Linked DNA regions of Homo sapiens. The protein of the gene in region 3 purifies or fractionates together with the protein of the main gene of each other region. This does not show direct contact. Each region holds a gene or a part of one and is shown on either strand. Other genes may lie near its edges.

Evidence for each region.
Region 1: the proteins of SLC25A43 (region 3) and TFAP4 purify together in Homo sapiens (affinity purification with mass spectrometry; one large-scale study listed by BioGRID and IntAct). This does not show direct contact.
Region 2: the proteins of SLC25A43 (region 3) and NDEL1 purify together in Homo sapiens (affinity purification with mass spectrometry; 2 studies listed by BioGRID and IntAct, with this or other methods). This does not show direct contact.

What each region holds. Positions count from the first base shown.
Region 1 is NC_000016.10:4,262,892-4,266,540, forward strand, and holds part of TFAP4 (transcription factor AP-4), read right to left. Parts: exon of another isoform or gene 3,611-3,649; coding exon of another isoform or gene 3,561-3,610; exon of another isoform or gene 2,800-3,560; intron 1,992-2,799; exon of another isoform or gene 1,459-1,991; coding exon of another isoform or gene 776-1,458; intron 1-775.
Region 2 is NC_000017.11:8,442,367-8,446,015, reverse strand, and holds part of NDEL1 (nuclear distribution protein nudE-like 1), read right to left. Parts: intron 2,090-3,649; exon of another isoform or gene 1,867-2,089; coding exon of another isoform or gene 1,840-1,866; intron 1,757-1,839; coding exon of another isoform or gene 1,745-1,756; coding exon 1,659-1,744; intron 306-1,658; coding exon 152-305; intron 1-151. UniProt on the Homo sapiens protein: Required for organization of the cellular microtubule array and microtubule anchoring at the centrosome. May regulate microtubule organization at least in part by targeting the microtubule severing protein KATNA1 to the centrosome.
Region 3 is NC_000023.11:119,402,220-119,405,868, reverse strand, and holds part of SLC25A43 (solute carrier family 25 member 43), read right to left. Parts: intron 1-3,649.

The DNA.
Region 1 (3,649 bases), on a different chromosome or scaffold from region 3:
TCAGAACCCACCCCGGGCCAGGCACAGTAATCCCAGTTCTTTGGGAGGTCAAGGCCAAGGATCATTGAGCCTAAGAGTTTGAGATCAGCCTAGGCAACGTAGTGAGACCCTGTCTCTACAAAAAAATAAAATTAGCCAGGTGTGGTGGTGCATGCCTGTAGTCCCAGCTACTCAGGAGGCTGAAGTGGGAGGATCGCTTGAGCCCAGGAGTTGGAGGCTGCAGTGAGCTATGATCACGCCACTGCACTTCAGTCTGGGCAACAGAGCAAGACCTTGTCTCAACAACAACAACAAAAACCCATCCCCTCCCTGGCTTTCCTCACAGGGAGCAGTCTCTCCTCCGGAACAGAATTCCCAGTGTGTCTGAGCATCAAAACATCCAAGAGCTTAGAAACTATGCAGACGACGGGTGCTGGCCCCAGCGTCTGACTAGCAGGCCCGGTGGGGCCCAGAAACGTGCGTGGTGTGATTCTGATGCACGCGGGATGCAGACGACATTCAGGGACGCTGTCCCCGCTCCTGGAACACTTCTGAGTGATTTGCTAGGCACCTGGAGCGCCTCTTCAGCGTCTCAGGCTTTGCCACCCCAGGACTGAGGAAGACGTCCCCACTCCCTTCCTACCCTCACGGCCACGCCTCCCACCACAAGCCCCAGCCCCGCTAGGCTAAGACTTCACAGAAGACAAGTACCACTCACTCCCCAAAAAGACACCAAGCCAACAACCCCTGGGGACACGGCTCCCCACAGCCCACCCACTCCAAGAGATAGACCCACCCTGCGCCGGAGAAGCGAGGCTCCCACCATGCTGTGGGGAGCGCTGCTGACCCTTGCAGGAGCAGTGGCCAGTGCGGTGAGAAGGCAGCCTGGGGGAAGAGGGCGTGGCTGCTGGCTGGGGGCGTGGCTTCGGACGAGGGCGGGGCGTGTGCGCCAGGGGGCGGGGCTGCGGGCCAGGGTGCAGAGGCAGCGGTTGTGGGCCCAAGGCCACGCTCCCGAGGGTTGGGCTTGTGTGTGGCCTGGAGGAGGCATGTCCCCCTCCCTGGACCTCCCCTGCAACTCCCCCCGCCCCTGGCCTGATGGCTTCCAGATGCTGGGCTCTCAGCAGAGGCTGCCGGCCCCACCCGAAGCCGCAGCCCCGGCCTCTTCCTGAGGGGCCCTCCCGGGGTGCCCTGTTCCAGGACTGGGCCAAGGGGGCTCATGCCCCTGAATGTGGGAGAACAGGAAAAGGGTTCTGGGCAGCTCCTGCTCCATTGATGAAGGCAGTCTGGGGTCAAGGGGCTGCCAAGTCTAACTCCCCTGCTGTGTGCCCTGGCCCCTTCGCCAGCCTGCAGGCGGAAAGGAGTTTGCACGGACCCCGGAGGCAGCACATCTGCAACAGCTGGAAACAGCCGTGGCCTTCCTGGCCCCACCCAGCCTGCCCATCTGTCCAGCCTTGGCTCCCTGTGGGACCCTGGACGCATCGCTGCCCCTTCCCCGGCCTCGGCTTCCTCTCCCAATAGAGAGGTGTCCAACGCCGGAAGTCTGGATGCAAATCAGCCTCCTTCCGTCCTCATCAAGCCAAGCCCCCTCCTCCATCAGGACCCAAAGGCCCAGGGCCTGCACCCAGGGTACAAGTCTCTTACAGGGTCTTGAAATGTCCGCACTGCAAAAGGGGCCCGGGCCCCCCACTTTCCATGAGACTTTAGGGTGCAGGGCAGAGAGGGGATGGTTTTAGGGTCGGTCAGCTGGATGTCAGTGCTCTCACTTCTCCCGGTTCCCCTGCCCTGAAGTGGAGGTGATAGGGGGACTGGAGCAGGCCTGCTGCACGGCTGTGTGTGGCCCAGCCTTAGGGCGGAGTCCAGGCTCCCAGGCCTGGCACAAACTCAGACCATACCATGTCTGAGAGGCCAGCAGGCCAAGGGGACCAGGACTGCTCTGCAGTGGGTGGCTTAAAGCTGGGGCTCTTTGGAGGTAAGAGGTGGGAAGAGATGTCCATAGGAAGCCACAACACAAGGTAAGTGCAATCTTGAGGCATCACCATCCCCCTCAGGAGAGATGTGGGGAGAGACCCCTGCCCACCCAGCCCCTGGGTCCCTCCTGGCAATGCCCAAAAGCCAGAGCTGACTAGGGGGTGAAAAGGGAGCACCAAGTCCAGCCTTGGGCCACCTGAGAGCTGGCCCTCCTGGAGGGTCCACAACAGAGGGATACATTTTTTTTTTTAAGTTTTTGGCGAGAATTTTCTCACTGAATTGTCACAATGTTCCTGAGTCAGGTGGCCTGAAGACTCCCATGTAAAGAGGGGGGCACAGAGGTTTGGGTAGGGTCCAGCTGCAGCAAGCGCTGGGCGTGAACCCTGACCCCAGAGCAGGTGTCAGGCCATAGGGCAGAATGAGCTCTGACCGGCCCACAGAGCCAGATGCCCCAACTGGCAGGTGACAGTTATCCCTGTAAAAGAGAAGACTAGGCCGGGCACAGTGGCTCACACCTATAATCCTAGCACTTTGGGAGGCCAAAGTAGGAGGATCGCTTGAGCCCCAGAGTTCAAGACCAGCCTGGGCAACATAGTGAGACCCCATCACTAGAAAAAATTAATCAGCCAGGCATGGTGGAGTGTCCCTATTGTTCCAGCAACTGAGGAGGCTAAGGTGGGAGGATGTAATAAGCCCAGGAGGTTGAGGCTGCAGTGAGCTGTGATCATGTCACTGTACTCCAGCCTGGGCAACAGAGTGAGACCTTGTCTCAAAAAAAAAAAAAAAAAAAAAAAAAAAGGACCAGGCATTCGGAAATCGCTGTAATCGTGTAACTCTTTTTATTATTCACAGACCTCGTTGACATTTTTCCCTGCCTGATTCTCACAAAACCCAGTGGGGTGGCCGAGATTACAGTGAGCAAGCAATGCAGGGTCGTGGGAAGGAAGGTGATGATCCCAAGGTCAAGTAGCCAGACCTGGCACAACAGCAACCTGCAGATGCCAACCCACTGAAGCGCCTCTACTGACTGCTAGTTCACACAGCCCGCCACTTATCAGAAGCGGGTGTGTGACTGCAAGCTCAGCCATCACCCCTGCCCCTCTGAACACAAGCCCACAAGTGAGGTGACTTGCCCAAGGTCACACCCAGCAGCTGGGCAGGGCAGGGTGCAGCCAGATGCACCCTTCTGCACCTCCCGGCCCAAGTCCCACCAACTCCTCTGCTCTTGGGAGCTGACCCTCAGCCTCTTCCGTCCCTTCCCCGCAAGGCAGCCCACTAACTGGGAGACCAAAGGAGACCACCAGACCCCAGTCCCGAAAACCCCAGCCGGAAGTTCTCACAAGGAAGAGGAGCTGGGGCTGGGATCAGGGGCCTGTGTCGCCTCCTCCTCTGCATCAGAATCTGCCGGCCCAGCTTCTCCAATGCTCCATCCTGCCTCCTTCCTCTCCAAAGCCATCAGCCCAGTCTCCTGGCTCAGAAACCAGCTGCTGGCTAACCTAGTGCTTAACTTAGGTTAAGCACTTTCTTAAATCCAAGAAAGCAAATTTCCCCCCAAAAGGTACAGTTCCTCGTGGGACCTGAATCTGCCACCAAGACCCTCAAATATAACTCACCTAAATTGCCCTGGAAGTACCCGCCGACAGAGTCCTTTAATAGAATGCATTCTAACCAAGGCTTCTGATTGGTGGAATAGGAGCTAACC
Region 2 (3,649 bases), on a different chromosome or scaffold from region 3:
CGTGAAAGAAAACATTTTATTCAAAAATTCACTTTAAGCGTTTTTTTCAAACTATTTTTTGTCGCCAGCTGCTCTTAAGCACCTGAAAAACATATTTCTCATTTTAATAAAACTCAACACATTAGACCCCAGCGTCTACTGCTGCAATTACCTTTAATGCCTCCACTTCATATTTCAGTCTTTGGTTATCAGCCTGCAAGTCTCTATTTCTTTGTTCAGCCTGTACTAATTGTGCCTCCAACTCTGCTTCTAATTCTCTGCTTCCTTCCTGGAATTCAACTAGCTCATCCCGAGCTTCCTGGAAGCTAATCAGAAACAAAGTGGGAAAGACGAGTTACACTAAGAACCACAAGGATTGTCTTGGAGGTGATTATAGAGCAATTCGATAATTTTTGCTTGAATGCTAATGCTCTCATAAAATATACTAAAGACAATCTGTTTTGCATCTCTTACTGTATATATTCAGGGTTCAATGAAAACGACAAGCCCAAAAAGGAGCCACAAGTCAGTGATTACAATATTTATGAAAAGTAAGGCTACGTGGCTCAATACCATTAGCTTCTTCCACCACAGAACTCAGATGCGAGAAAAATGCATTTTTACTTTCATTAAAGTAACAAATTTGGCATTTCCTTCTACCATATTCAACAGAAATCACACATATTTTCACATCACAATAGAATCGTTGCATGTATCTCTAAATATATTTATTTTCATGACTATTTCAAAATTAGGTAGTTATTACATTCACTTCTGTATCTTTTTTTATTTAATGCATTAATAGAGAAGTACATGTTACTATGCCATAAATTAGTTTAATATTTAGATAACTTTTTTCAATATAATTGATTTTCTTTGTAATTCTATTATTCTATGCATTTAAAAATATTATGCTGAGGAGTCCACAGGCTACCCCAGCCCATTAAGACATCTATGACACAGAAAAAGATTAAGAACCCTGCCATAGATACACACCTTTCATATCCACTGGCACAATAGAATAACTGACTTCGGTGATAATAATGAAAGGGCAGTAAAAGGTTTGATAAGACTTAGTAAACTCTGTTAACCAAAATAGGAAAATGTATCAATATTTTATTTAGCAAGATCCCATTTTTAAAAAAGAAATTTGAGACAAGTTTTGTTGCTTAAAAGGTTGTTGCCTGAAAGTTCTCCCAACCAAATAACTGAAATTTTATAAAACGTTCCATGCCCCTGAAGCTTCTCCCCCTCCCTCAAAGCTTTGCTGGCTCCAGACACTGATCATGCTTGCCTGAGGAGAACGTAAAGTCTGTTCTATGGAGCCCCAGACAGCTTATCAGAATCTCCAAATGACCAAAATGATGAGGCAGAATCAGTGCATGCAAAACGGGCCAAAGATGGCCCCGCCTACTAAAAAGCATAGAACAGGTAACAATCAGAAGAAATCATAAATGACAGTTTTCCTACTATTTTAATAATTTGAACAATATAAAGACTTATGGCATGTTTACACTATTTAAATACAACCCATGTGGTGACTGTTTGTAGAATCTCAATCCTAGAATCCTAAATCTGCAATTCTAAATTTAGCTTTATGTTAAAAAGAAAAATGCACAAACAAGACACGGTGTATTCCAAATGCCCTCCCCTACTTTTAGTGTGCTTTCCAACATTACCTTTGCTTATACTTCAAGGAAAGTTCCTTCCAATAAGCAGTTTCCTCCTTTAAACTTGAAAAATCTGGTATATCTTCACCATCCATGATCAAGAAAGCCTGTGAAATATTAAAGACAAACTTAACAAATTAGAGAACAGAGAAATCTAAGCACAAGCATAAAATCTGGGACAACACTGAACTGCAGCATTTTGGAGGGAATAAAACATGAGAGATTCCAGTGGTTAACTCTCTTCAAACTCAGGCACGTCAATCACTCCACTGCTCCACTCTCAGGGACCACCAATATTGTGAATGAGATCATGACAAAGGTCCTTTGATACAAAGCGACAGGAGGCACTTTTGGTTGCAGCATAGGCGCTGGGTGACTTGGGCCCACAGAATCATCCTGCACACAGAGTTGCAGCAGTTGGTTTAAGGCCACGTGGTCTTCTGCGAATCGGGAGACAGAAACAAGCTTATTGTCAGAGATGCTGCTACCGCATGCATGCTGCCCTTCCCAGGTATACAACTGCTTCAAAACATCTGCTTGGAACATTTTATGCCAGGTGACCCTACTAGAAAATCAGGCACCACATTCCCAATAATTTACTATTATCAAATCTCTAAAAACCTCCTGTTAATCATCTTTTAAGTCCAAAGCTTCCTTCCAAAAGCCCACTAATCTCCAACTTCAATGATCTCTCTCTCTCATCCTGGTTCTTCTCTCCCAAGGCATTCAGAGAGGAGAAAAAAAGCGATTTAATTAACTAACATTTGGACTGGCTACCTACAACTCCCAACTGATCGTCAGGCCCACTCTAGAGGCATGCCTACTGCTTCCTAGCACCCCCTCCCCAGGCATCCCACTCTATATTCTGGCAGTACTGTTCGAAACTGTCTTAACACACCAGGCTCTTTCAGGCATGGAAAACTACTCCAGGTTTTCTCTACCTGGAGTGGCTCCCCTAAATAGGAAAACTACTATTTATCCTTAAAACCTAATTGTCATCTTTTCCAGAGAGGTTTTCTTGCCCTCAACTGGACAGCATTAAAATCTCTTGCATTCTTTGCTACCTCTGTACCCCACACATGCTTTCACTGATATTATTACCACAGGGCAATGCATTTGCTTACACCTTTGTGTTGCCTGTTAGGCTGGCTTACTTATTTCCGTCTCAGCCCAATGCCTGCACAATAGTGGATACTCAATGATATTTACTGAATTAAACCATAATTGATTCAACCTATTCCATACTAGGCAGCAAGAACTCAAGACCAGCTTTAAAAGTAAATTAATAGGCTAGGTGTGGTGGCTCATGCCTGTAATCCCAGCACTTTGGGAGGCCGAGGCGGGCGGATCACGAGGTCAGGAGATTGAGACCATCCTGGCTAACACGGTGAAACCCCATCTCTGCTAAAAATACAAAAAATTAGCCGGGCGTGGTGGCAGGCGCCTGTAGTCCCACCTACTCGGGAGGAGAATGGTGTGAACCCGGGAGGCGGAGCTTGCAGTGAGCCAAGATTGCGCCACTGCACTCCAGCCTGGGGGACAGAGCGAGACTCCGTCTAAAAATCTAAAAAAAAAAAAAAAAAAAAAAAGTAAATAAATAAAAACCTGGAGATGCATAGAACTTGGAGTTTATCTAGCACAAGCCACTCAGGAAGGTTTAGCAAAAAAAAAAAAAAATCTTTTTAAAGGAATGAACGGTTAAATCTCTCCACATCATCAAACATAGAACACAGTGGAAGTTCAATAAATATTTGAATTGAGGCTGGACACGGTGGCTCATGCCTGTAATCCCAACACATGGGGAGGCTGAGGCAGGAGGACTGCTTGAGCCCAGAAGCAATGAGGCTGCAGTAAGCCATGATTTTGAGGCTGCAGTGAGCCATGATTGTGCCACTGCACTCCAGCCTGGGCAACACAGCAAGACCCTGTCTCTAAAATAAATAAATAAATATGTGAACTGATTTATAATCATCCTTTCAATATTCCCTCTTGACTTTCAA
Region 3 (3,649 bases):
GTAGAGACGGAGTTTCACCATGTTGGCCAGACTGGTCTCGAACTCCTGACCTCAGGTGATCCACCCCGCTCGGCCTCCCAAAGTGCCCAGTTCTGGGCCGGGTGCGGTGGCCACTCTATCGCCCACGCAGAAGTACAGTGGCATGATCTGGGCTCACTGCAACATCCACCTCCCAGGCTCAAGAGATCCTCCCACCTCAGCCTCCTGAGTAGCTGAAACTACAGATGTGCGCCACCATGCCTGGCTATTTTTTTTTTTTTTTTTTTTTTTTTTGTAGAGATAGGGTTTCGCCATGTTGGCTAGCCTGGTCTCAAACTCCTGGGCTCAAGTGATCTGCCCGCCTCAGCCTCTCAAAGTGCCGGGATTACAGGTGTGAGCCACTGTGCCCGGCCTATCTTTTTAAAATGAGAGCATCCCCAGTTCCTTAGCCTTCAAACCTCCAGTGAGGAGGTGCATTTCCTGTTCTTTCAGTTGCCCATAGGCCAGGGGCTGCTGCATGAGAAATAAGAGTGGGCATTCAGGTGAAAGCATTTAAGGGGTTCTAGGCTAGCTCTTTTGCTTTCAAGTAAACACTCACTGATTAAAAACATCTTCAAGCTGTAGGAGTCTTGACTTCATTTTGTCAACCTACCTTAGCCGCATTAACTGAAACAGTCATTTGAGTTAATCAGCTGCTTTTAAACATACAGGGAAGTAAAGGTGATGTGGTGCTATGATACATACATTGGTTTTCACCCATGGTTCCTGGCTCCTAACTTCCCTAGTCCTTGTTATAATGTTGGGGCACTTTAGGTCTCAGGAAACAGAATCTTTCTCTCTTTGACCTTCTCCTGCCCTCCTTTTACCTGCCCAAGGTAGGACTCTAATCTGATTGTGGGTTAAAAGATCCTCATCCCAGAGAGGGTCCTGCCCCATACCCTAGAGCAAACTTGTCCAACCCACAGCCCACAGGCCGCATGTGGCCCGGGATGGCTTTGAATGTGGCCCAACACCAATTTGCAAACTTTCTTAAAACATTATGAGATTTTTTTGCAATTTTTTTTTTTTTAGCTCATCAGCTATCGTTAGTGTTATTGTATTTTATGTGTGGCCCGACAATTCTTCTTCCAGTGTGACCCAGGGAAACCAAAAGATTGGACACCTCTGCCCTAGAGAAAGGAACGCTGCATAGAGGCCAAGAAAAGTCTGAACAGACAGGCCTTGCTGGGTTTAGATCATGTGCTTTTCATCCAGTCACATTTCTACATGGTTGTCAATCATGCCTCTGTAACAAATCTTCCATAAAAACCCGAGAGGACAGGGTTTGGGAACCTTCTGGATGGCTGAACATGTGGAGGTTCCTGAAGGGTGGCGTGCCCAGGGAGGGCATGGAAGCTCCACACCCCCTGCCCCTTACCTCACCCTGCCCATCTCTTCTCTGTATCCTTTGTGGTATCCTCTGTAGTTAACTGGTAAACATTAACTATTTCCCTGAGTTCTGTGAGCCGCACTAGCAAATTAATCGAACCCAAAGAGGGGGTCGTGGGAACCCCAACTTGAAGCTGGTTGGTCAGAAGTTCTGGAGGCCTGGCTAGGCATGGCGTCTCATGCCTGTAATCCCAGCACTTTGGGAGGCCGAGGCAGGCAGATCACTTGAGGTCAGGAGTTCGAGACCAGCCTGGCCAACATGGCAAAACCTTCTCTTTAGTAAAAAAATTACAAAAATTAGCTGGGCATGGTGGCGGGCGCCTGTAATCCCAGTTACTCAGGAGGCTGAGGCAGCAGAATAGTTTGAATCCGGGAAGCAGAGGTTGCAGTGAGCCGAGATCACGCACTGCACTCCAGCCCGGGTCACAGAGCGAGACTCAGTCTTAAAAAAAAAAAAAAAAAAGTTCTGGAGGCCTGGACTTGTGACTAGTGTCTGGTTGGGGGCCATTCTTGGGGACCAAGCCCTTAACCTGTGGCTTGGTCTGACATTATGTCCAGGTAGACAGTGTCAGAACTGAATCAGAGGACACCTAGTTGGTGTCCATTTATCAGAGTGTGGGGTTCCCCACACTCATTTGGTCACAGAAGTCTTCTGTGTTGAGGGTTGTTGTTGTGGTGTGAGAGCAGAGGAAAAACCAAGTTTGACAGAGGTTTTTCTCAAACAGGTGGCATTCACCAACAGACTATCTGCCTCAGTTGTACTGCCTGCCTGCCCACTTCCTCGTTCCTCCCTCTTCTATACCCTGGCCAGTCAAGTTGGAGGGGGACCTCAGAAAGGACAGGGGAAACAGAGGAAGTAGAAATTTTTGACTGGGGCTGGGCGTGGTGGCTCACGCCTGTAATCCCAGCACTTTGGAAGGCCAAGGCAGGTGGATCACGAGGTCAGGAATTCGAGACCAGCCTGGTCAACATAGTGAAACCCCGTCTCTACTGAAAATACAAAAATTAGCCAGGCATGGTGGCGTGCACCTGTAATCCCAGCTACTCGGAAGGCTGAGGCAGGAGAATCGCTTGAACCCGGGAGGTGGAGGTTGCAGTGAGCCGAGATTGCGTCACTGCACTCCAACTTGGGCGACAGAGCAATACTTCTTCCAAAAAAAAAAAAAGAAATTTTTGACTGGAGGGGCGGTCTGCAGCAAGCTGGAACCACCTAGAAGGTGGAGTTTGAAATGCCCAAAGAAATACCATTCATTCTCCTTGTCCCACTCTTATTCCCCATCCCACTTGGTCACTTCTAGGGCATAGTTAATTCACTACTCATTTATTGAAGGTCTACAATGTATCAGACCCTGTGTTAGTCCTCAGCATAGAGCCTAAGGGAGTTCAACACTTCTGACAAGGAAATGACTGGTAGGGGCAAGCGGAGAGGAAACAGGCCCTTAATTCACTGAATGACTTGATGAACTAGGAAGAGGAGCCGTATTTTATATCAGTTTCTTTTATAGAGTCTCAATATCAAATATACACAATTAAAAAGAAGAACCATAGGAAGTCCTTTTTTCGCAGACTTCTCCCATCTGATACAGAGATAAGTCCTATCAATTGTTCCCCTTAGAATCTCAGAGTCAGGGCAGGCAACCCTGATAATCCGCCAATGATGTCATCTCAGTCCATGCATCTTAAACTTTTGATTTGCTAGGGCGGCACTGTTCCCTTTTCTGTTCTTCCTCCCACCCCCACACATACATGCACAGAAGCTTTTTCCAGTGAGACTGGATACACTGGTGAATTGCAGCAACCCCTTCCTTTCAGCCAGCACAGATACAACACACACCCTGGATATGTGTAATTATAACTGCCAATACTTCAACCTAACAGGTTGGCAGCCAGTGCAGCCAAACATAAGCTCATGAAGTGCTTATTCAATAAAGAAATAGTGTTGGTTATGAACAATTTCAGAGCTGCAGGGACCCAAACTAACGTTTATTAGATAAGATAGACAAGCGGTTGTGAAGTTCCAGGGCGGGGGGGTCTTCTATTTGATACATCTGAAAGCCACCCATTACAATAACCTAGCTCCCAACAGACTACTGAGTGGACTCTTGATCGTCAATCCAACTAAGCAGATATTTCTGCTGTGCAATGGTAGACAGAGACCTGAACTAAGGAGCCAGAAGACTTGGCTTCAAGTTCCAGCTCTTCCATTAATTGCATTTGTGGACAAGTCACTTAACTACCCCAT